Linked DNA regions of Homo sapiens. The protein of the gene in region 4 purifies or fractionates together with the protein of the main gene of each other region. This does not show direct contact. Each region holds a gene or a part of one and is shown on either strand. Other genes may lie near its edges. The genes, in order: ATP6V1A, CNTN1, ZDHHC18, SLC34A2, LMTK2, EPDR1 and SLC30A7.

The links.
Region 1: the proteins of SLC34A2 (region 4) and ATP6V1A purify together in Homo sapiens (affinity purification with mass spectrometry; one large-scale study listed by BioGRID and IntAct). This does not show direct contact.
Region 2: the proteins of SLC34A2 (region 4) and CNTN1 purify together in Homo sapiens (affinity purification with mass spectrometry; one large-scale study listed by BioGRID and IntAct). This does not show direct contact.
Region 3: the proteins of SLC34A2 (region 4) and ZDHHC18 purify together in Homo sapiens (affinity purification with mass spectrometry; 3 studies listed by BioGRID and IntAct, with this or other methods). This does not show direct contact.
Region 5: the proteins of SLC34A2 (region 4) and LMTK2 purify together in Homo sapiens (affinity purification with mass spectrometry; 3 studies listed by BioGRID and IntAct, with this or other methods). This does not show direct contact.
Region 6: the proteins of SLC34A2 (region 4) and EPDR1 purify together in Homo sapiens (affinity purification with mass spectrometry; one large-scale study listed by BioGRID and IntAct). This does not show direct contact.
Region 7: the proteins of SLC34A2 (region 4) and SLC30A7 purify together in Homo sapiens (affinity purification with mass spectrometry; 2 studies listed by BioGRID and IntAct, with this or other methods). This does not show direct contact.

Annotation. Positions count from the first base shown.
Region 1 is NC_000003.12:113,750,035-113,753,534, forward strand, and holds part of ATP6V1A (V-type proton ATPase catalytic subunit A), read left to right. Parts: intron 1-3,500. UniProt on the Homo sapiens protein: Catalytic subunit of the V1 complex of vacuolar(H+)-ATPase (V-ATPase), a multisubunit enzyme composed of a peripheral complex (V1) that hydrolyzes ATP and a membrane integral complex (V0) that translocates protons.
Region 2 is NC_000012.12:41,027,939-41,031,438, forward strand, and holds part of CNTN1 (contactin-1 isoform 1 precursor), read left to right. Parts: coding exon 1-31; intron 32-1,124; coding exon 1,125-1,281; intron 1,282-3,500. UniProt on the Homo sapiens protein: Contactins mediate cell surface interactions during nervous system development.
Region 3 is NC_000001.11:26,847,188-26,850,687, forward strand, and holds part of ZDHHC18 (palmitoyltransferase ZDHHC18), read left to right. Parts: intron 1-1,420; coding exon 1,421-1,570; intron 1,571-3,113; coding exon 3,114-3,251; intron 3,252-3,370; coding exon 3,371-3,419; intron 3,420-3,500. UniProt on the Homo sapiens protein: Palmitoyltransferase that catalyzes the addition of palmitate onto various protein substrates, such as CGAS, HRAS and LCK. Acts as a negative regulator of the cGAS-STING pathway be mediating palmitoylation and inactivation of CGAS.
Region 4 is NC_000004.12:25,658,851-25,662,350, forward strand, and holds part of SLC34A2 (sodium-dependent phosphate transport protein 2B), read left to right. Parts: intron 1-3,500. UniProt on the Homo sapiens protein: Involved in actively transporting phosphate into cells via Na(+) cotransport.
Region 5 is NC_000007.14:98,200,862-98,204,361, forward strand, and holds part of LMTK2 (serine/threonine-protein kinase LMTK2 precursor), read left to right. Parts: intron 1-2,712; coding exon 2,713-2,845; intron 2,846-3,082; coding exon 3,083-3,325; intron 3,326-3,500. UniProt on the Homo sapiens protein: Phosphorylates PPP1C, phosphorylase b and CFTR.
Region 6 is NC_000007.14:37,927,140-37,930,639, forward strand, and holds part of EPDR1 (mammalian ependymin-related protein 1 isoform 1 precursor), read left to right. Parts: intron 1-3,500. UniProt on the Homo sapiens protein: Binds anionic lipids and gangliosides at acidic pH.
Region 7 is NC_000001.11:100,899,090-100,902,589, forward strand, and holds part of SLC30A7 (zinc transporter 7), read left to right. Parts: intron 1-3,500. UniProt on the Homo sapiens protein: Zinc ion transporter mediating zinc entry from the cytosol into the lumen of organelles along the secretory pathway.

The DNA.
Region 1 (3,500 bases), on a different chromosome or scaffold from region 4:
TGCGTGATCTATAAGTGGACTAGCACTAGACTAAAAGTCAGAGGATCTTCATTCAGCTCTGCCACTTTAGTTATATGTCCTTTTACGTAATGCTGGGGAGGGGTTCAGGTTTGATACTTAGGAACCTTCCTATGACATAAACCCTAGGTAATCTATGTGAAAATATCTTAAAAACTAAGTGGTGTCTGTAATCCCAGTGCTTTGGGAGGCCAAGGCGGGCAGATCACAACGTCAGGAGATCGAGACCATCCTGGCTAACACGGTGAAACCCTGTCTTTACTTAAAAAAATTAAAAAAATTAGCCAGGCATGGCGGCACGCGCCTGTAGTGCCAGCTACTCAGGAGGCTGAGGCAGGAGAATCACTTGAACCCGACAGGTGGAGGTTGCAGTGAGCCAAGATCACACCACTGCGCTCCAGCCTGGGCAACAGAGTGAGACTCCATCTCAAAAAAAACAAAAACAAAAACAAAAAAAACTAAGTGGTGTGTAAAATGGTAAAGCAGTGTAGCTCAGACTTTACATGAATTGATTTCCCAGTCATAGAGACCTAGTTGAAGTTCTGGCCCTACCACTTAATAACTGTGTGACTTTGGACAGTGTACTTAAGTAAGGTTAAGTTTTCTCACGTTTAAATCTATAGATGGTGCTATTAAGTTAGATCATGAATGTAAAATGCCTAGAACATATTTTGTAAAAAAAATTTTTAATTAATTTTACTGATAACTACTTTGATTTTATATACTGAATTTCTAAAGACTTAAGACAACCCACAGAATTGACTGATGTCCCTGTGAGCAGCAGGTTTGGGGCATGAAGAAGAGAGTAGAATTTGAAAAGAAGCTATTACCCAAAAAATGGGGGAACAAGAAAAGTGTACTTGTAGCAAAGATTCTAAAACAGATTTATTAATTTTATCTGAAAAATATCAAGATAAAGTCCCTTATTTGGGCAACTGCAGTGTCTTAATATTTTCTATATAAAGATTTTCCAAAGCTTGTAATCATTAATGTATGGAATAAATTTAAGGAGGCAGTTCTTCAATTTTGAAGTTTTTATTCCTGCAATGGATTATAGAAGTATATTAAAATTGTACAGATTGTAGAGCAGGGACTTTTGAGTTAATGCTTATAAGCTTAAAAATTTTGTCTTTTTAAAAAAATTAAGTGTTTTTATATCTTATTTTTATCCTTATATGAAATAGACAAAGAAATGTAGAGAACATAATGGAGACATAAACTAGAGTAAAATTCTTCCCTTCTTAAATTCATGATTCACAAGGGTTAGTAGTTTTGCAATGGAAAATATCAGCAAATTAAACAGTAAGTATAGCTATCATGAGTTTATGAATCACTTTATTCCTGAAAAAAAAAATTACTCATTTGTCTTAAGGAAAGATTTTATTAAGTTTATTGACTTTTCCTTAATGTTGATTGTCTATTATAACAAATGGATTTATTGATTTAGGAATGAATTTATTCTTTATACTAAGTAACTTTATTTTAAATAAATGAAATGTGAGCAATAAAAATGTTTTCCATATAATTTCTGAAGAGAATATTAGTTTTGCTATTCTCTTTTTTCCCTATGGTGAAATGATAGCGACTTTGGTTTTTATAAGTGTATTCATTTATATTTAGTATATACATATTATGTATATACTATATATAGAGTAAATATTTGTAGTATATAAAGTACGCAATGTGTGTGTATGTATATATAAAGACAGCTGAAGTGGTTGTGTATCTTCGTAGTAACATATTTATTTTTACCTGAAACTACTGAAGTGATCTTTAGAATAATGATTTATTTACATTTGAAACTCCTCTTTCTGTATATTTCTTTGTAGTTAGCTCTAGTTAATAAATTTACAACTGTGATTAGCTGTTTTTAAAAATTAATGGTATATCATAAGTATTTTCAGATTTAAATTTTAGAAGGAAACACTTTCTTATATCTTAAGGTTTTAAAAATCACTATTATTTTTGGTATTATTATGACTAACAACAAAAATTTCAGTTTTGGATCTTAATGCTATCTGTTGAAACTGTTCTCTTGGTAAGCCTTTAAAAAAATTTTATCTGCAACATGCCACATTTTGTTTCTTTTCTGAAAAATAATTAAGCTTATTTCACTGAAAATAAAATGGGTGGTATATGATATGATATAGAAGAGTTTCAGATGTGCTTGAGCAATGAAAAGCAACCAGACTTTATAAGTTTTTAGTTCTTAGTTTAATTTTTTTAATGTTTAAAGGTACAATAGAGAAGACTAATTGAATTGGAAAATACCTTTAAAATTGAAAAAAGAGCATATGTATAATAATAATAGTATATACATATGGAAAAAGTTGTAAGGAAATGCATCAAAATAAGTAATTATCTCTAGATTGATGCATTAAAGAAAAAATTAAAATTTATTACTATACCTTCTGTATATTTGAATTCATAATGTCAGTAGGCATTGCAAAATATTTCTTAATTTGATATGGAAAATTAAGGCACCTAAATAATTCTTTCATCTTAACTACTTGGATATCTTAAGTGAAAATGTTTTGTCTCATCCAGGTAGCTGAGTAAGTTATTTAATTTTATAGGTGTGTAAATATATTTTTAATTTTAAGTATATAAGTGCAGCAGAATTTTAAAAAGCAGAGTAAATCTCAGTATATAAGATAATTTACCACATTTCAAAGGGATAATTCAATCCAATGGTGAAAAAGGGCACATATATATCATAAATGTTAACTGATACAACTTGCTCATCTAGAAGAAAATATAATTGATCCAATACATTGCAACAGATGCAAAAACTGATTTCAGATGGATTAGAGGCTTAAATGTAAACAATAAAATATTTAAGATATTAATCTCCTAAATTTCCTTTATACAAACAATCCAGATGTAGTTTTTTAAACCAAGATAGGAAACCTAAAAGTCATAAAAGTATGGATAGACACATGAGACTGCATGGAAACGAAGGATTCTTTAGTGGCAAAAATAAAGGACCAAAGACAAAATCAGGCGGAAAAAAAGGCTTGAGATATATGTAACAGATGAGTTAACCATTGAAAGAACTCTTTCCAATTAAGAAAAAGTTCACCCAGTAAAAATATGGATAAAACATGTCACCAGAAGTTCACAGAAGAGAAATCCAAACATTCAACAAACAGTAAAGGATGTGTAACCTTACTAGTAATCAATATACTAACAATGAAATATTATTTCTCTGACAAGCAAAAATTAAGTGGTAAACCTACTGCTAGCAGGGATATGTGGAGAAGGATTATCTCATAAAATGCTAGCGGAGATGTGAAGTGTTAGAGTTTTTCCTAGTAAACAATCAAGCAACATCAGTTAATACTGAGAATACATGTATTTTCCACCCATCAGTCTAACTCCATGTAATCTTTTCCTTAGAAATAAAAGCACCAGTAAGAGTTTACAGGAGTGTTAGCTGCAACAGTGTTTCAATTTTCAATGTTAGTAGTGGCAAAAAACGT
Region 2 (3,500 bases), on a different chromosome or scaffold from region 4:
ATCAAATGAATCTACAGTGACGGGATATAAGGTATATACAAATAGTGATGATTAATGTTTGCAATTCTTGCTATTTCAGTGAAACCCAAGATGGGTTTCTTTTCTTTTTTTGAGATGGAATTTTGCTCTGTCACCCAGACCGGAGTGCAGTGGTACAATCTTGGCTCATTGCAGCCTCCACTTCCTGGGTTCAAGTGATTCTCCTGCCTCAGCCTCCCAAGTAGCTGGGATTACAGGTGCCCACACCCACACCCGGCTAATTTTTGTATTTTTAGTAGAGACAGGGTTTCACCGTCTTGGCCAGGGTGGTCTCGAACTCCTGACCCCAAATTATCCACCTACCTCAACTTCCCAAAGTGCTGGGATTACAGGCATGAGCCACCACGGCTGGCCCCATTCAACTTTCTTATTCTATTTAATAGTTGTAGAGCAGAATCAGATAACGTAGTGCCATGATACATTTTGAAATGGAAAACATTATCTTCAGTGAATTTCAGCAAAATGTTATGTCAAAAGTGTAAGATAAGTAGAATACTTTAAAGATAAAATAGAATAATCAGAGCTTAAGGAGGAGAGAGAACGAAACTATTTTTGTTTGGCAATGATTATGATAGGGTTGCCCAGCACCCAGAAAACTCCTTGATAAACTGAGTTACTGTTTATAAATGAATAAAAAGGAGAAAAGCTTATTTTAAATATATTCTTTATATCACACACTATCACATTTTTCACTGGATACCAAATTTTATGGAAAATGGTAAAAATAAAAATTGAGAGACAATTTTCAGACCATTTCAATATATTTTAAAAGTTCTCATTTTGGACTTTTTTCTTAAAAAGACTCATTCTTTCTATATTTTTATTTTGGGTCATCTCAAAAAATAAAATTCAGATGCTTAAGTCACATCTCCTTGGATAATCCTACAAACTTGCAAAAATCAACTATTGTGAATTGAAACTAACATGATTTTTTTCATCTAGTTTTAAATTTAGTTTTTCCTCTTGTTTTAAATTTATTACTTTTTGTTAATCAAAGTATAAGCATTTTTATTCTGGTTTTAGTGTTAGAGCATTGGCTCATTATTATGACTTTACTGCATATTTACATTTCTGTACTTTATAAGGTACTCTACAGACCTGATGGCCAGCATGATGGCAAGCTGTATTCAACTCACAAACACTCCATAGAAGTCCCAATCCCCAGAGATGGAGAATACGTTGTGGAGGTTCGCGCGCACAGTGATGGAGGAGATGGAGTGGTGTCTCAAGTCAAAATTTCAGGTAAGTGAGTCATTTAAGACACATTTCAACTAAGTACTTGTGAGTTTCTAGACCCTGTGGATTCCCAAGGGTAGGGATAAGCCTGATACACCAGTGTCCATATTTTCCTAAGTAGATTGGACATATCAAGGATTCCCTGAAACTTGGTATTTCTCCTCTTATGAGTCACAAAAGTAAGTCTGTGACATACCACATACTTCTTGATTATTATCTGGATGTCAAAGCACAGTTGAAATCTTTCAGACATAAGACGAACGAGTTTTTGGGATCCAATATACAGTATGGAACATATTAGTTTATTTGATTGTGGTAATCATTATACAATGTATACATATATCAAATCTTCATGTTGTTCACCTTGAATATATTTAATCTTTGTCAGTTAAATATTTTCAAATAAAAAGCACAATTAAAATGGCATAATTTATTGAATACTATATAATACTAGGCTATTATTTAATAATAACCAAACTTCTATCAAAAGGAAATACACTAGGCTATTTTTAATACTCTTATAACTCTTTCACTTGGACTATAGATATTGATATAGTAGTAAAAGAGAAAAACACTAAATTATAGCCCCTTTGTCTTTTCTCTTTCTCTATCTTATCTATTCCTTTTCTACAAACTCTATTTCTCACACCTTTGTTTGATTTGGAAATACATATATTTGAGGCAGTCATTTCTTTTTTTTTATTTCTGGCAATCTGTTATTTAATTTTTGACATATTTTTCTTAACCTATATGCATGATATAGTTTAATTATACTGAATTTCAATAGATGTTAATTTGAGAAATGTATGAGAGGCTTTGACATTACCAGAAGATCCTAGAACAAAGATGATAATAAATAATTTATAAGAAAATTTGGTTAATCTGTACAACAAACCCCATGACACAAGTTTACCTGTATAACAAATCTGCACATATACCCCTGAACTTAAAATAAAAGTTAAATTTTAAGAAAACTAAAAAAAAAGAAAATTGAAAATTTGGTGATTTTGATATAAAGAAATAAATATGCTATATATTAAACCAACAAAAAATCCTTTACCACAATGCCAGAGTATTTAATGGTATTTAATAAATGCTGGCTTCAATTGTATGCCATGTTTTTGTGAAGTTTGCCACAATACATATATACATCCTTTACAAATCAAAATAGAACTTTGATTTTTTTTAGTTTAATCATCAGCAATTTTGTCTTTTAAGAAAATAGAGAAATTACAGAGATGTGAAAGGAAAAGAAAATAATCATGTTCCAAATACCCTAAAATAGCTACTGTTAATGCTTAGTTGAATTTACTTATAGTCACTCTGTATACATATATAATTTCATGTTTCAGCTTCCATTTTTGTAAATTATTTAAAAATTATAAATGATATTCTTTCAAACAAATATGCAAACTCATTAAAGTTTTTTTCTATCATAAATAATACTTTTAGAGTCCATTTTCATAAATTAATCTTTCTTCTGGTTAAATTTAAGACAAAGTGTTTTAGGTTGCTAAATTTCTTCAAAAACACTTACTAATTTCTATTCCTATTATCATTGAGTATAAGTGCTTTTCTCACTGTACCACTCTAATATTATTGTCTTTTTAGTCATTGCTAATTTGACAGGGGAAAATAGAATTTTCTTATTTTTGAAACATTTTCTATATTCAGAACTTTGTCAACATCTTCAATAGTTTTACACTTAGTGGGCAGTTTCACAAAAGGAAATCAGAGGGAAATATGGCCATTATTTCAAGGAAGGTAAAGCACAAATAACTAAATAAATTGCTCTTGAACCCTGGGCCTTCTTTCTCTTGTGTAGAAGCCAGCCACAGCGAGCTTTTGCTCTCTGTACTCACCCTTGGTTCATCATTCCTCACCGAAAGGAGAACCTAGCTTCTGGGATTTAGACTAGAGGTTTTCAGCAAGAGATGATGTAGCAGTGATGGTAACATCAGTTTACCTATCACTAATGGCACTGGTAAATGTTAAACAGTAGAATCACTAGGGATAGGGGAAAGCCCTGTTTATAATGTTTGCCTGTTTCTGTGGTGTAAATATTCTCATTATGTGTGATTTCAAGCTTTCCAAGTGATGTCACTTAATATGGAGCTGTGAAGAGCTACCCAGTAGCACATCATTATATGTAATTGCCACCATACAGGTATAATAAGAACCTAAAAAACATTTGACAACATTATAATATAGTAAAATATTAAGAA
Region 3 (3,500 bases), on a different chromosome or scaffold from region 4:
CCTGGCCAATTGTTCCCTAATTTTTGTTTGTTTTTAGAGACAGGGTCTTGCTCTGTCACCCTGGCTAGAGTGCAATGGAGTGATCCTGGCTCATGCTCACTGCAGCCTGGAACTCCTGGGCTCAAATGATCCTCCCACCTCAGCCTCCTTAGTAGCTGGGACTATAGTCACACGCCGTCATACCCGGCTAATTTTTGTCATTTTTTATAGAGATAGGGTCTTCCTATTTGCCCAGGCTCATCTTGAACTCCTGGGCTCAAGCAGTCCTCCCATCTTGGCCTCCCAAGGTGCTGGGACTACAGGCATGAGCCACTGCATTCGGCCTGTTTCGTAGTTTTTAATCTGTAGTCAGATTTCCACAGTTGCCCTCCAAATGTCTTTTGTTGCTGTGTTTTGTTTTGTTTTTCAAAATAAGATCCATGATGTATTGCATTTGTTTATGTCTCTTAAATCGCTTTTAATTTAGAATCATCTCCTCTCTGCCTCTCTTTCTCTCTCTCTCTTTTTTTTTTAAGACAGGTTCTGGCTTTGTTGCCCAGGCTGGAGTGCAGTGGCGTGATCTTGACTCACTGCAGCCTTCACCCCCTGGGCTCAAGTGATCCTCACTCCTCAGCCTCCCAAAGTGCTGGGATTACAGGTGTGAGCTACTGCACCCGACCTCCTCTCTCTTTTTATAAATGACATTGACTTTTGTTAGAGATCAGGCCAGCAGTCTTGTAAATGTCTCATATTCTAGATCTGACTTTTTCCTCATTGTGTTACTCACTTTGTTCCTCCATCTCCTGAACCTCCTGTAAACTGGGACATAGGTCTAGGCTTGATGAGATGCAAATAAACCTCACTGGCTGGGCGCGGTGCATCACTCCTATAATCCTGGCTGTTTGGGAAGCCAAGGTGGGCAGATCACCTGAGGTCAGGAGTTCAGACCAGCCTGGCCAACGTGGTGAAACTCTGTCTCTACTAAAAATACAAAAATTAGCTGGGCGTGGTGGCACACTCCTGTAATCCCAGCTACTCGGGAGGCTGAGGCATGAGAATCGCTTGAACCTGCGAGGTGGAGGTTGCAGTGAGCTGAGATTCACGCCACTGTACTCCAGCCTGGGCGACAGAGTGAGACTCTGCCTCAGGAAAAAAAAAAAAACCCTCACTAAGCTTTCTGGGAGTCTCCTTCTCTGACAGCCCTTCTTAGAGTGGGTAAGGCCGGCAGGTGTATGAACAGAGGCAGTCTCAGTACATGGTGGCAGTTCCTAATATTTGTCCCTGCCTTAGGCCAGACATTTTACTCCAATGTTTGTTCCTGGGAACCTGTTACCCTGAGGCTTCTCCTGGACTGGCCAGGCAGCAGTAGCTTTCCCCTGCTGGGGATCCGGGCCCTGGGCTGCCTTGGGCATTCCCCATCTTTCTCTCCTCCTTCCCTCAGACAACACAGGCAGTTCTACATACCGGCCACCCCCTCGGACCCGGGAGGTGCTGATCAACGGGCAGATGGTGAAGCTGAAGTACTGCTTCACCTGCAAGATGTTCCGGCCACCCCGAACCTCACACTGCAGTGTCTGCGACAACTGTGTGGGTGAGTAGGAGGCAGCAGGGAGGGATGCAGGGATTCCTGAGAGAGACTGAGTCGTGGGGATGGGGGGCATCAAGCATGGGGATGGCGTGGGCAGGGTCTGAAATACCCAGGGCTGGGCAGGGGGTCTGGTTCACCCAGATTTGCCCTGACTCAGGAGGGCCCAGGGGAGGGGCCCTCAGCATAACCAGGAGTGTTTTGGCTTCAGCTCAGGATTGGTGGATTCCTTCCCCCAGCTCTGAGGTGTGGGGCAGACAGACAGGCTTTGAACCCTTCTCCCAGGCTTCAGCCCGGTCCTCAAGAGGTCCAAGCTCCCAGGAAACAGACTGGAACAATAACATTCCAGATGTGTTTGGGCCAGAAAGAATGAGTTACTGTCCAGTGGCCCAGGGCCAGCTGTACTGAAAAACTTTGATCTGATTCCCAGAGTTGAGAGGGAAAAGCATCTAGCAACAGAGGCGTTTAAGCTGATGAGGTGCAGAGGATGTCACCACTGGAAATGGCTCCTGACCCTACAGCTGCCTGCAGTGGTTGTTTTGTCCCCTCTCCCTGCTCTCCAGAGGCTGTGTAGTTCTGATGGGCACCCTGAGAGGGTGTTGTAAGGGAAATAATGCATGAGAGGGCCCAGGTGAGCTGAGCCACAGTGACTGTGCATAGTTCCCAGGGCAGTGAGCTCATCATGCCAGCTCAGTACTCCCTAAGCAAGAGAACAGCAGGGAACACCCCCCCGTGACGGCATGCAGTGAAGGGGGTGACTCAGTGGGCACCATTCATCCCCAAGGAGCTGCCCCGCCCACGCCGTGCAAAGGGCACTGGCCTTGGCATGAGGCCTGCAATGGGCTTGTGACCCACATTCCCACAAGGACTTTCTTTACCAGTCTGGGTGTGCCTCCACCCCCGGGGACAGTGTGCAGGTGAGCTCAGCCCTTTGACCTGGCCTGTGATGCTGGCTGGCTGTGAACCCCATTGCAGCTCAGCCCCTCCCTGGGCCGCTAGTCCTAGAGCAGGAGACGGGTTGTTGACTGTTAGCATGTGGTTGGGATGGTAGACCAGGTGACAAGTATTTTTGTGAGTCTTTGTGCCGGCACTGCTCTGGATCCTGGGGAGTCAGCATGGTGTAAGACCAGCACAGCCCCCCTCGCCCATGGAGCTTACAGTCAAGTAGGGCTGATTGGCCAATCCAGTTATTATAAATAAGCATAAAAACACACATGGGCAGAGTGTGACAAAAGAGAAGTGATGGGGCAGATAACAGGGGCCCCCTCCCCTAGTCTGGGATTGGAAGAGACTTTCTTAAGGAGGTGGCTTTGCAGCTGAGACGCGAAGGAGAAGTTCCAGTTAACCAGGTAAAGAGACGAGAGAATGTATCAGGCAGTGGGAACTGGTACACAAAGGACCAGAGGCAGGTGTGTCCAAGGCCTGGGAGCCAGCTGGTGCTGCGAGAGTGAACGGGGTAGGAAAGCCCCAGCCATGGGTGAGGCCGCCAAATGCCTGTGCTGGCTGCAGGCCAGCCCACACTAACCCATCGCCCCTTGCCCTTGTCCAGAACGATTTGACCATCACTGCCCCTGGGTGGGCAACTGTGTGGGGAGACGGAACTATCGCTTCTTCTACGCGTTTATTCTCTCCCTCTCATTCCTGACGGCCTTCATCTTCGCCTGTGTGGTCACCCACCTGACGTTGCGTGAGTTGTGGGTGAGGGCAGTGGGGAGTGGAAGGGGTCAGCCAGCAAGCTCAAGGGTCAGCAAGCTTCAGCAGTCACTGTCCCTCTGAGCTTGTCCTCTCCTGTTTCTTTCTCCCCAGGCGCTCAGGGAAGCAACTTCCTCTCCACTCTGAAGGAGACACCAGCAAGATATCCTTTGTCAGCTAGAGGACACTCCAGTGGGAACTGAGGTCCCTTCACTGGGTGGGTGCCCTGCCTCATCCTCTAATC
Region 4 (3,500 bases):
AGGGGCTCAGAGCTCCAGGGTACATTCTCTGCCTGCACCATTTAATACCCACCCCCACCCACCCACCCCACCCCCACCACCCTCCCCTCCTGCTCATCCATTGCAACATTCTTGGGCGGGCATTTCCAGCATCTGAATGATCATGTGGGAGTGACCTGCAGACATGCCAATCTAGCCAGCTATCCGAAAACACTCAGAGCCCTCAATGTGCCTAGACCTAAGGCCCCTGGGTGCCCTGGTGCTTTGAGGGCTGGAGAATTTCTCCTCCCTTTGCCCCTGGCTGTGAGATCTGTGGAAAAGCTTCTGGCTTTGGAGCCAGCAGTCTTGGGTTCATATCCTGACACCAGCTCCAGGTAGTTGGAGGCAAGCTTCTTTGTTTCTCTGTGCCTCAGTTTCTTTGTCTGTACACTGAGAAGAAAAACTCCTTCCTTGGTAGATTTAATGAGGTCACAAACTGTATAGGACACTCCTCTGCCACAAAACAAACATTAGCATCTTTCTCTCACAGGCTTTGGATTCATTTATTCAAATATTAACTGAGATCCACTACCATGCTGAGCATTGGAGATGAAGAGCTTATAGTCTAGGGTACACACAGTGGAAATGAGGCCATTTACTGTTCATGACACAGTGCATTTCCACGTAATAAACACTCTTGTTTATTGTTCATGACACAGTGCATTTCCACATTGTGTCATGAACAATAAACAAGAGTTCCGAGTGTTTACTCTGCCAGGCACCATGCTCTAGCCTCACCTACACTTATTAACCAATTAGTCCTCATAACAGCTCAGTAAGCAAGATGGTATTGTCCCCATTTTTACAATGATGAAGCTGAAGCTCAGAGTGGCTCAGGGTTGCATATAGTGAGGGGCAGGCCTCTGCAGAGCCAGCCCTCCCTCACTGTGATTCGCCTCTCTCCAGGTATCACTGAGCCATCTTACCTTTGTGAGCTTAGAGGTTGAGTTGCATCTTTTAAAATAATTTTCTTCTAAAATTTAAAAAATCACCCACAGTCTCACCACTCCCTTTTACCTCCAGAGAACATTTCTGGATCTTGTCTGCCTTGTTGAGATGATGCTGTGAATGGGAAAAAGAAGTGCTTTAGATGTGAAGTTTATCTAAAGCATTTCCCTATGGTTTTACTGATTCAGTATAACCTCTTTAATGGCATGCTCTTACAATGCATGGACATACCATAGTTAGAAGGAGTAATTTCTCTTTTTTCATTTTTTCACACTGTAAATGATAGAGCAGCAAATATCTTTTTGGTCTACATCACATTCATTCTATCATAAATATGCCCGGCAGGGCTCAAGACCTTAAAGATGAAGTGATGGACAAGACAAAGTCCACTTTTTGGTAGGGTTTGCAGTCTGGTAAGCAGGAAATAGGTTGACGAAGAAAGGAGTCAGGTGGACTCAGGCTCTAAGAAGCCCTCTTGGAAGAGGTGATCAGAGTAAGTTAGGTATTTCTGAATTTCTGAGAGGAAATATTCCTAGCTTCCTGATTCCTAGAAGTGAAATGACTGGGTCACAGACGTGTGATGAACATAAGGCACTTTGGACAGTTTGCTAACTTTTCCAGAGCTTCTAGCAGTGTTCAACTCATAACATCTTCTCCAGCATAGCATAATGAACTTAAATTCTTTTTGCTACTTTGATAGTTGTCACTGTTTTAGTTTGAATATATGGGATTGCTTCTGTTTTTTTGAGACGGAGTTTCACTCTTTTTGCCCAGGCTGGGGTGCAATGATGTGATCTCAGCTCACTGCAACCTCCACCTCCCAGATTCAAGTGATTCTCCTGCCTCAGCCTCCCGAGTAGCTGGAATTACAGGTGCATGCCACCACGCCTGGCTAATTTTGTATTTTTAGTAGAGACGGGGTTTCACCATGTTGTCCAGGCTGGTCTCTAACTCCTGACCTCAGATGATCCACCTGCCTCGGCTTCCCAAAGTGTTGGGTTTACAGGCATGAGCCACTGTGCCCGGCCTGGATTGCTTCTTTTTTAATAGGCATTTTAGCCATTTGTTCCTTTTCTGTGAATTGCCTTTCTCCAATCTTTTGGACTGCTTTGTCTAATGGACAAGGACTAATTGTCTAATGTCAAAGAACAAGGACTGCAAGGACTGGAATGTGAGGTGTGTCAAGTACCATGTAACTGAGAAAGGCCTTGTGAAGAAAATAGATTGTAAGAAGGTCTTTTCTGAAGGCTGAAAAGAATGTGGTTCTAACAAAGGATGATTAATCCAGACAGCATGACATAGTAATAATTGCTGCTATTTATTGGATGCCTCCTCAATGCCAGTCACTTTCTAGACTTTTAATTTCACTATTAGTCTCATAACCCTGCAAGAACTGTTCCATTTTATAGATGGAGAAACTGACACTTTATGCTCAGAGGCATAAAGGGACTTGCCTAAATACACACTCATTAATAGGTGGCACTGCTGGATTTTAAAACCAGGTCCATCACTCTTTTCACAGAAGGCCTGGGTGGTAGGTAAAACACGCAGAAGGTATATGAACACCTGCATATACTTATATATTTTGAGACAGAGTTTTGCTCTGTATCCCCCAGGCTGGAATACAGTGGCATGATCTCAGTTCACTACAACCTCCGCCTCCCAGGTTCAAGCAATTCTCATGCCTCAGCCTCCTAAGTAGCTGGGATTACAGGCACCCACCACCATCCCCTGCTAATTTTTGTATTTTTAGTAGAGACAGGGTTTTGACACGTTGCCCAGGCTGGTCTCGAACTTCTGACCTCAGGTGACCCACCCACCTTGGCCTCCTAAGGTGTTGGAGTTACAGGCCTGAGCCACCTCGCCTGGCCCCTGCATATATATTCACATACACACTAAGTTGTATAAATCTGTTAAATTCCACTGGATAAGGTTTTGCATAGATTTGCAGTGCACTTGTCTTGATATAAGAAGTAGATGGGGTTCCATTGAAGGGTTGTGAGGATTTGGCATGCTATGAGACAACAAAGATGAATGGGCTTGCACCCTGCCTTTTTCTTTTTTTTTTTTTTTGAGAAGGAGTTTCACTTTTGTCACCCAGGCTGGAGTGCAATGGCACAATCTCAGCTCACTGCAACCTCTGCCTCCCAGGTTCAAGCGATTCTCCTGTCTCAGCCTCCCGAGTAGCTGGGACTATAGGCGTGTGCCACCACGCCGGCTAATTTTTATATTTTTAGTAGAGATGGGGTTTCACCATGTTGTCAAGGCTGGTCTCAAACTCCTGACCTCAGGTGATCCACCTGTCTTGGCCTCCCAAAGTGCTGGGATTACAGGCGTGAGCCACGGTGCCCGTTGCACCCTGCTTTTGACTGAAGGAGAGAGTCAAGACAAAAACAAGTTTACGAGATTAAAGGTGGTACATGCAGCTAACTCAACACTGTACGAGGTAGTTTGCTTTAGCGACTGGGTGAGTGTTTGAAGGGGAACCACAGAGGAAATATGGTGCTTAATATGCCACACTTAGGGGGCATAAG
Region 5 (3,500 bases), on a different chromosome or scaffold from region 4:
GTTGTTTCTGAATGTTTTCTGTCCTGGTTGGTTGACTCTGAGGATGTGGAACTCTCTGATCTGGAGGGCCTCCTGTCCTTCTGTTCTTTTTCATTATTGATGTTCTAGGTTTCCTTCTGGAACCCTTTCCCTTCTAATTAAAGAAATTTAACTAGCTTTTCTTTTCTCTCTTTTTTTTAAAAACCCATTTTTTTGCAGGATTCCTTTTATTTTTAAATAAATTCTCTTAGTTTTTTTTTCCATCTAAGACTATTTCACACTCATTCCTGAAGCCTGTTTTCTCTGAGTGTAGAATTCTGTGTTGATAATTGTTTTCTTTCAGCATTTTAAAAATGTATCCCTTCCTTCCACCCTCCACGGTCTCTCATGAGAAATTTGCAGTCACTCAGATCATTCTTCTCCTAGAAGTACAAGTGGAGCGTCCCTTATCTGAAATGCTTAGGACCAGAAGCATTTTAAATTTCTGATTTTTTCAGATTTTGGAATATTTGCATTATACTCACCAGTTCAGCATCCCAAATCTGAAAATTTGAAATCCCAAGTGCTCCAGTGAACACTTTGGGCGTCATGTCAGCGCTCAAAAGGTTTTGGATTTTGGAGCATTTTGGATTTTTGGTTTTCCGATTTGGGATGCTCAAGCTGTAATACATGTTTTATCCCTGGCTGCTTTCAAATCTTTGTCTTTAGCTTTCAGCAGTTTGATTATGGTGCATCTGAGGGTGGATTTCTTCGTGTGTGTGTTTTGTTTTGTTTTGTTTTGTTTTGTTTGAGACAGAGTCTTGCTCTGTCACTAGCTGGAGTACAGTGGCACGATCATAGGTCACTGCACCCTTGAACTCCTGGGCTCCAGTGATCCTCCCTCCTCAGCCTCCTGAGTAGCTGGGGCTACAGGCGTGCACCACCACGCCTAGCTAATTTTTAAATTGTTTGTAGAGACAGCATCTCACTGTGTTGCCCAGGCTGGTTTTGAACTCCTGGCCTCAAGGGATCCTCCTGCTTCAGCCACCCAAAGTGCTGGGATCACAGTTGTGAGCCACCCCACCTGGCCCAATTTCTTTGTATTTATCCCGTTTTTGTTTTGCTAAACTTAAATCTGTAGTTTTGTATCTTTCACCAAATTTAAGAAGTTTTCAGGCATTCTTTTCTTCTAGTACTTTTTCTGCCCCACGCCCTGTCTCCTCTCTTCCTGGGACTCCAGGGTTAGACCCTGTGTATTCTCTCATAGGTTCTGAGGCTCTGGTCCTTTCTTCCTCCAGGTTTTTTTTTTCTTGCTCTTGTTTGGATTGGGTGATTTCTGTTGCTCTGTCTTCAAGGTCCCTGATGATTTCCTTCGTCATCTCCATTATGCTGTTGAGCCCATCCATTGAATTGCTAGATTTTGGTTATTATACTTTTCTTTTCTGAGTTTTGCTTTTTGTCATTCTTCTTATCATCTGTTCCTTTGCTAAGATTTTCCCTATTTCTGTTCATGGTAAGAGTGTTTCCCCTTAGTTGTAGGAGCATTTTTATAATAGTCCTTTTTCAGATAATTCCAACATCTGTGGTACGGTGACACTGGCACCTGTTGATTGTCTTTTCCCAGGTAAATTGAGGTGTTCCTGGTTTTTGTATGTGAAGTAATTTTAGCTTTTGGATCCTCCTATCATGTTAGGCAGTCTGTGCCATGTGTAAATGCTGTGAATCATGTTGATACTTTTACCTTAGCAGGCCTTGACCCGGTGGGTGCAGGCCACAAGCTCCAAGCAGCCTTCTGTGGGTTGTGGTTTCAGTGTCAGCTCCCAGTTCCCCTTTCAAAGCCTTCGCTGTGCTGTTTGAACCTGCCCCACGTGTGTGCCCCGCACCCCACCCCGGTCTCCCCTGAGGTTCATTTTCAAAGCTTGGGTGTGTTCAGAGTCAGATCTACCACACACAGCCCAGGAGCCCCCCAGCAACTTCATCGGGTCACCTTTTTGAGCTCCTCCCTCTTCTGTGATGTCCCTGATACTTGCAGTTCTTTGGGCCTCTGCTTTCTGGTCCCCTAGCTAGAAAGTTGAGGCTTTAGTTACACGATGTGCCATACTTCCTGCAATCGCACGCGCATCTGGAGCCAAGCAGTGGGAGGACAGAAGGGAAAAAAACTCAGCGAGGGTCCCCTCCCGCTCGTGATCACAGTCCTCCAGTGGAGAGGAGGCTTCATGGCCCTCAGGATTATAGGCAGCTGTTGCCCCAGGATTGCTTGAGACTGGAGAGCAAGAGAACAGAGAAAAGAAGAAAGCTGGAATTCCCCCTTCTCTTTCTGAGCATCAGAAGACCCCCTTCCTGCTCCGAAGCCAGAACCAAGGGCTTCTCCTGGAGCACTGTGTCCAGGGCAGTGCCCACTTTGGATTCCGGGCTGACCTGAGTCCAGGCGGGGGATTGTGGAGGAGAAGCCGACACACTTGTTGCTGGTGGGTGGCACCTTGAGCACTGCCGCTCGTGCCCGCCTGCCTGCTGCTCTGCGCTTCTCTGCAGCCTCAGAGGGCTGCTTCATGCCTCTGCCGAGGTCAGAGCTGCAGGCAGAGGGAGAGACAGGGCCTAGTGTCTGTCCGTCCTCCCAGGCCTGGAGCCGCCCTTGTCTTGAGACGCTTACTTCTCAGTCGATGAGTCTGATGCGCCTGCCAGTGGGGAAGCGGTCACACGGGGGGTTCCCGTGAGCAGGCCTTTGCTGACAGGAGTTTCTGTTTGACTTTTCAGGAGACCCCAACCAAAGAGCTGGGGCCCTGTGGAGGAGAGGCGTGCGGCCCGGACCTGAGCGGCCCAGCCCCAGCCTCAGGCTCTCCCTACCTGAGCAGGTGCATCAACTCCGAAAGCTCCACCGACGAAGAAGGTATTTCACGTCATTGTCTAGTTTTAAAGGAAACTGAAAAATTGAGTAATGTAAAGGTTTTTTGAGGGTAACTTCCCATGTTGCTTTAATGACGCCCCCTGACATGGGCACAGAACTGCCATCTGCCAGCCGGGCCGGGCTGTGTCTTCCGACCTGCAGGGCGCACCTGCCCAGAGGCTCCCCCTCTCCCTCATCACGCAGTGATAAAAAGGGTGGGGTTTTATTTTTTATTTCTAGGTGGTGGCTTTGAGTGGGATGATGACTTCTCCCCAGATCCTTTTATGTCAAAGACAACAAGTAACCTGCTCAGCTCCAAGCCTTCTCTCCAAACATCCAAGTACTTTTCTCCGCCGCCACCGGCCCGGAGCACGGAGCAGAGCTGGCCGCACTCGGCGCCTTACTCCCGGTTCTCCATCTCTCCCGCCAACATTGCCAGCTTTTCCCTCACACACCTGACCGACTCGGACATCGAGCAGGGCGGTGAGAGGCGCTGCGTGCTGGGGATTGGGAGTGCAGGGTCGGGGGTGGGGCGCTGCAGCTGGGAGATGGTGGTTTTGCAGGCCTGATAATCTCATGTCTTCTTCACATTTGCTGAGTAGATTACAAACTTGTTTTTATAAAACTCCCATCATCAGCTGGGTGCAGTGACTCCTGC
Region 6 (3,500 bases), on a different chromosome or scaffold from region 4:
GAAGTTAGAACCTGTGCTCTGGTCATGCTCAGTGCTATCAGGTGGCACTGCTACCAGGTCCTCTCAATGGACAAAGCAAGGGGTGTTAAGTTTGAATACACACATCCCTCCCCACACACACTCATACATATATACACATTTACATCTATATTTATTTCTGAACCTCCAGTTCTAATCCATACAGGTGTTTAAACTGATGCCTTCATTCTAATCCAACACTACATGGTTCATTCTAGTTTTTTTTTTCCTTTCATTTTTGCTACTCCCTTCTCAGCCAGTGAGAAAACTGGCTTACTATTCAATTGCAGTAGGTAACCAGTCATGTATCATTACGCTGTCTCCTTCACACATGGGCTCTGCGCTCCAGGCCAGCCCATGTAGAAGCCTATCTTCCTTGGTCCTACCTAGTGGCTTTAGTCTAAATTGTTCAAGAGAAAGGAGTAGATGAAATTATGTTCTTAACATATGTTTGTATTGCTTTTGGATTCTCAGTATGTCATCATTACAAATCCTCAGAGGGTGTTTCTGTGTGACTGGGGGAGGCAGACTAATATAAAGTGCTCAATAAATCTATTTGATCATGAATCTTGTCTTGCATGGATTGGATTTTCATTTTAAGAAATCACGACTTTGTGAATATTAAGAGCATGACTTCTCCTTTGACCTTTACTCCATCATTTTGGTCTCAGATGGCTGGAGATAGCATATTCTTTTGTGAGCTGAGGAAGTCTTGACTGCTTGTGGCCTCCTGATCCTCAAAGAATAAACCATACTGATTTGCAATACTTGAGTTTCGCAATATTTGAGTTTTTCTTCAAGAAACAGATTTTCTTGGAAGCACACAAAGTTTGATTTAAGGGACTTAATTCAGTGTGTCTATAGACCCTGGATTTCAGACAATTAATGCTGAGATGGGGAGGGAGAAGCAGGCACTGGGGAAAAAAGATCCAAAGAAGATAAGCCCAGGAGAGTAAGGAGGCTGATGGAATGTAAGACAAATTTACGAATGGAAGCCAGAGGTGGTCACTATACTGCTTTGAAAACATCTTTACTTTCTCCAATAACCTTGAGCTGTTTCTTCCTGATTCTGACCTTGAGGATGGTGGTCAGGGGCAAAGTGCCCAAAGATCTGAAAATATTCCACCAATTAGTGGTTTGTTTTTCCTGGAATAAATATGATAGTCTTAGATTTCACCAATTCCAGTAAAAAATTTCTATTTTCCCCCTTAACATTTTCTTTTATTTTACCCATCTTTAAATAAAAAAAAAAAACTTCTCTTGATCTTACCAGCTGAAATCTCATTCTCCTCTTCTATTTAAAGCAAATCTCATGCTAACTACAATTTTTGTACTCCCATGCTCTCTTGAACACCCTCCAATCACTTTTGTCACCATTCTATTGAAAATACTCTGGTCAAAAGCAAGAAGCTCTACATTACTAATCAACCAATCTTTGATCAGTCCTCATCTTATTGTAGATTAATTCCCCAATCTTGATGCACTGTCTTCACTTGGCTTTCAACATGCTAGTCTTCTGGTTTTCCTTCTCCCACCTTATTTCCTCTCCTCAAGCCTTTTTGCTCTTTCTGCTCTTCTCTGGACTGCTAATAGTGGACTCTCCCAGGGCTCAGGCTCTCATCTCTTTATGTTCCTACCTATACCCTAATTTTGATATATACTGAATCTGACCATACCTCTACTGTTATTCTGGCCCAAACTTTTATTATGTCTCGGCTGGATGTTTATGATAGCCTCCTAACAGTTGTCCCCACTTCGGACCTTGCTCCCTTTAGTCTGTTCTCCACATAGAAACCCCAGGGGTTCTCTTGAAAATACGTCATGCCACTTCTTGGCTCAGGATCTGCTCCCCAGCCTTTTCCCTACCTTATCTCTGTCACCAGCTCACTCATTGTGGACCTGGCCTCAGCACGCTGACCCCATTGGCACTTGAATCTGTCATTCCCTCTGCCTAGAAAGACTTTTTCCTAAGAAGCTGCATGACTTACTCCCAAATTGAACTGTTTCTCTGCTCAACATTCTCAGTGCCCCCTCACTGCTTTATATTAATATATCCAAGGCACTTATGACTATCTGGCAGAGTGTTTAACGTTAAAGTTTGTTCCTTCATCTCCCCCACCTTCCCTCATGCACAATAAGGCTCCGTAAGGCCAGGGGTTTTGTATGGTTGTTGCTGTGTCTCTAACTCCTCAGAACACTTTACATTCTTTTCAACATACTATGTGGGACCTAAACGAATACTTGTCCCATATGAAAAGAGCTGTGTTCTGATGTCGGAGAAGGCGATTCCCAAGCTCCATTTTCTAACTGCTAAGAGCAGGGCCTGACTAATTTTTATTTTTTTTTGAATCAGTGAATGAGGGAAATGAATAACTGATAATATACATTCATTGTAGAAGGATACCTAAATAATAGATATGTATTTTCTTTCCTTTTTTCCTTATAATTAAATTTCTTAGACAATAAAATGATAGATTTATGTAATGGTTTCATGGTTTTTCATTTATATGTTACGTTATACCTCTTTTCTGTTAAGAATGATTTTTGACATCGAATTACACTGCAGTGTTTTGAAAAGTTTTCCAGTAGGGTTGAAGTGGAGGGCACACCACCACCTCCAGAGAGTGGATGCCCCAAACTCCTTTCGCCCATGAGCCACTCCCCCACTGCCCTCTCATCAAACACTGTCTTCAGTGTCTCTCTTGTGCCTCAATTTCAATTTTGGGGAATTTCACCCAATGTGGGCATTTGAGATTTATTTCTAAAGCACCCACAGTTTCTCAGAAGCAGTGCCTTTTTGAGTCGGGAGGCCATCTGAAGAGGAATCAGATCCTTAGCAGGGTGCCTAAGTTACCCTCAGTCCCCCCAAAGAAAGGAGAAACTCTTGGGATGATGGCTCCCCTAAAGAAGGCAACTTCTCCTGGAGGAAAAGGATATACATGCCTTGGATGACTCCTGCCCGCTCACAGAAGGCTGCTTTTGTTGTGGCTTAAAGTTAGATCTTCTGGTAGAGTTCTAGAATGTGGGCCCTGCCGATGAGTGACAGCCAAAAGCTCACCTTGGAAGAGGCACCAGAGTCACAGCCCCAGCTCTCTCAGGGAAGACGCTGCTCCAGAGCATCTCAGAAGCCACCAGGGAAGACAGTGGCAGATGGGAAGCCGGTGGTGCAGGGCCAAGGGCACAGCTCTGCCTGACGCAGCATTGTCAGCAATAGGTAACATATAACTTATGAGGAGTATCTGAGTACCAGCAGGCACTCTTGGGAGTGAAGGATGGGGGAAGAGAATCTGCCCCAGACTTCATATCCATTGGAAATGCCACATCAGGTGCTGTATCTTGGCATGGATTGTGTTTCCTGTAGGTGTGGGAGTTCTTCTTCTCACAGTCAAGCCCTCCACCTGTCCCTTGTCACACACCCTGTCCTTTTGAATAGAAATTCTCATCCTAGCCCAGCTTCAGGCACGGCCTGGCTTACCCTTGGA
Region 7 (3,500 bases), on a different chromosome or scaffold from region 4:
CTTCAGTGGAACAATAGGTAGTTGTTGTGTGTTTTTCCCCTCAATAAATATCTGCTACCTTTCACCTTCCCACTAGAACGTAAACTGTATTAATGTAGGGATCTTTTCTATCTTATGCAGGCACTTCAGTACATAGCACATAGTGGATGCTTAATACATATTTGCTAAATGAAAGAATGAGGGAATAATTAATGTATGGAATTACACTACCTATACTAAAAATGGTAACTACCCCGTTAAGGAAAAACAGCAATGACAAAACATTAAATTCCATTCTCTCACTCTTAGAAATTGGGAGGAAAATGGTAGAAATTCTATGTGATTTTTCCCTTCCTTCTAGTATTTTATTTTTCATTTACTAATTTATTGTTGAGTAACTGACTAATCTCAAGGTAACATAGTGTAACAATGTGGTTTTGTATCATCTACGGTTAAGTTTGTTTTCAAGTTACAGAAAAACTCTGCACACCTGTAATCTCAGCTACATGGAGGCTGAGACACCAGCATCCCTTGAACCTGGGAGGCAGAGGTTGCAGTGAGCCGAGATTGAGCCACCGCCCCACAGCCTGGGCAACAGAGTAATACTCTGTTTCAAAACAAAACAAAAACCTAAAATAATGGTTGCTTACACAAGATAAAACTTCATTTCCAAGATGGGTGCTAGTGTTTCAGTCATCCCTGGCAGCATAATGTCTGGAATGCAGATAAAAAGAGGTAAAAGGTGTGCACATTTTTTTTTTTTTTAAGATTTACCTGGATGCTAACACACAATGCTTTCACTAAAATTTTATCACATGGTCATGCCTAGTTGCAAATGTAGTCTTTATTCCACTCAGCCATGTATTCTGCGGAAAGTCAAGGATTTTTTACTAAGGAAGAAAGAGAATATGTGGATAGTGTAGGTTTTGGAAGTGGGACTTGAGAGAGAGAGAGAGAGAGACAAACTAACCTGTCATCTTCTATAGTTGGAAAATTGAGGCCTAGAGTTTTTTACTTCCCAAGTGAGCAGCAGAGCCTACAGCACCTATTGTCCAAGTTTGATGTCCAAAAAACATCACACTGGTTTTTTCTAGTATCTCAATATAGTTTCTGTGTTTTTATGTTCTTACATTTTTACTTCATTTTTAACAGATTTAATTTCAGTAGTATTTCTTACCAAAGCTGTTGCAACCATTTTTCCCTTAGACATAGAAGACACTCAGGTAACTCTAAAGGTTAATGTCTTTGTGTTAACAAAGTAAATATTTGTTGAAGAAATGTTTAAGACAATACCAGACATTTATTTGGTTCTACTTCAGTGTGATATTTCACAGCAGATGTTTGTAAAGTAATTCCTTAGTGAAGAAAAATACTTCTATCAATCACATGTTTTTCTATTAAAATTTTCATATATCTTAGTCTTTTAAAATCAACTTTTTCCTTCTCAAAAGGCAGCATTACTTACCAGCTTATGGTGATGGCTTTTGCTTTCCTATAATTTTATTTCCCACCTTAAAAACATAGATAAATATTCCATTTTGCTTAGAATTTTTTTTAAAGTAAGGGACTATATAATGGAATGTAGTGGAGTTCTGGGTTATTTCACTGTAACTCATTTAGTTTATTGACTTTGCTAATGTCAGGATTCTAAGAATTTTCTAATTTCCTGATAATAAATTGACAGTGTTTTTCCCTGACTTTCCACATCATGGAAAGTACCTGGTAAGGGATTTCTGAATTATGATGATTCCTTATTTTCAATTTTGAACACGTTTAACAAACAATATAAATATACCGTTAGCTTAGTTACCAATAGACCTTTTAAACAATTTTTTATCACTGGGTATTTTAAACATATGTAAAAGTAGAGCATTTAATGGACCTCATGTACCCATCACTGAGCCTTAACATTTATCAATACATGGTCTATCTTATTTCATCTGTTGTCCCTGTCCCACCATTGGATTGTTTTAAAGCAGACACAAGATGTAATTTCTTCCATAACTATTTCATTATGCTTCTCTAAAAGATAAAATCCACCCCCCCTTAACATAACCCAAAACCATTATCACCCATGAAAATTAATGACTCATTAATATCCAGCTAACGAGTATTCAGGAGTCCCTCATTGTCTCATAAATTCTTTTTACATTTGGTTTTACAGATTAGAAATCAAACAAGATCCATACATAGTATTTAGCTTATATGTCTCTTAAGTTGCTCTTAATTTATAGGTTCTCTTTCTCCCTTCCTTTGTTTTTGCCTCCAATAGACCCTAAATAAAATTCTTTTCAAAAGTTTCTTTTGCCATATATTCTATTGACATTTGTGCTGTTTTTGCTTCTGTATTTATGTATTCAGGTTTCTCCTTTATACACGTAGAAGTTTTCTTTTTCTTTTTTTTAAGACGGAGTCTTACTGTGTTGCCCAAGCTGGAATGCAGTGGCGCGATCTTGGCTTACTGCAACCTCTGCCCCCTGAGTTCAAGCAATCCTCCTGCCTCAGCCTCCCAAGTAGCTGGGAGTACAGCCACGCCTGGCTAATTTTTGTATTTTTAGTAGATGGGAGTTTCTCTATGTTGACCAGGCTGGTCTTGAACTTCTGACCTCAGGTGATCCACCCACCTCAGCCTCCGGAAGTGCTGGGATTATAGGCACGAGCCACTGCACCCGGCTGGTTTTCCATGTTAAAATGTCTTTAGAAGGTAGTCATTTAAAAGAGTTTACAAATACATTTTAGAGAAACTAGCAGTGCTTAAAGAGGAGTCTACGACAAGTAAGTGGATTTTCACAACCAGCTTTACTTTATCATGGTTTACTGAAGTTACCTTTGGTGTTTCAGTCATGTAACCTTAGGTATTCTCTATGCTACCTTTATTTTTTAAGGAAATTTATAGTTTAAATTTATAGTTTAAATATAATTCATAATCAGAAACATTTGCTAAGATTGAATATGAGCAGTAAAATTGACCTTCCTCATAAGCAATATTTTTACATGTGATAGGTCAGCAGAGAGCTAAAAGTAGACTGTTTTTCCCATGAGTTTGTGTATTTGCAGCTAGGTAATTTTTAAATCATGATATCAAGTTTAAGGGAAAAGATCTCATATTGCAGTGTTTTAAGAGAACATAATGTTCTTCCATCTCAGAAGAGGGAGTAGTTTTTCAGGTAGTCACATTTTATTAAGTACTAAAAATAACATTTTAATGCTAATTAAATTTACTTAAAATTTAAATAAAATTTCATTTTGATGAGTATTAAAATTGCCGTGCTATATCCACACCTCTTTAAAAGGAACCTGACTGCTATTCTGTGCAAAAGGAATTTTTATTTTTATTTTTATTTTTTGCATTATGGCAATATTTGGTTTATGTTGGGTGCATATAAAGTAAATTTGTTGAAAAAAAGGAGTGTGTGTTAGTTTGCTAGTCTGGTGTAATAAAACACCACAAACTAGGTGGCTTAAACCACAGAAATTTATTGTCTCACAGTTCTGGAGATTAGAAGTCAGAGATCAAAGTG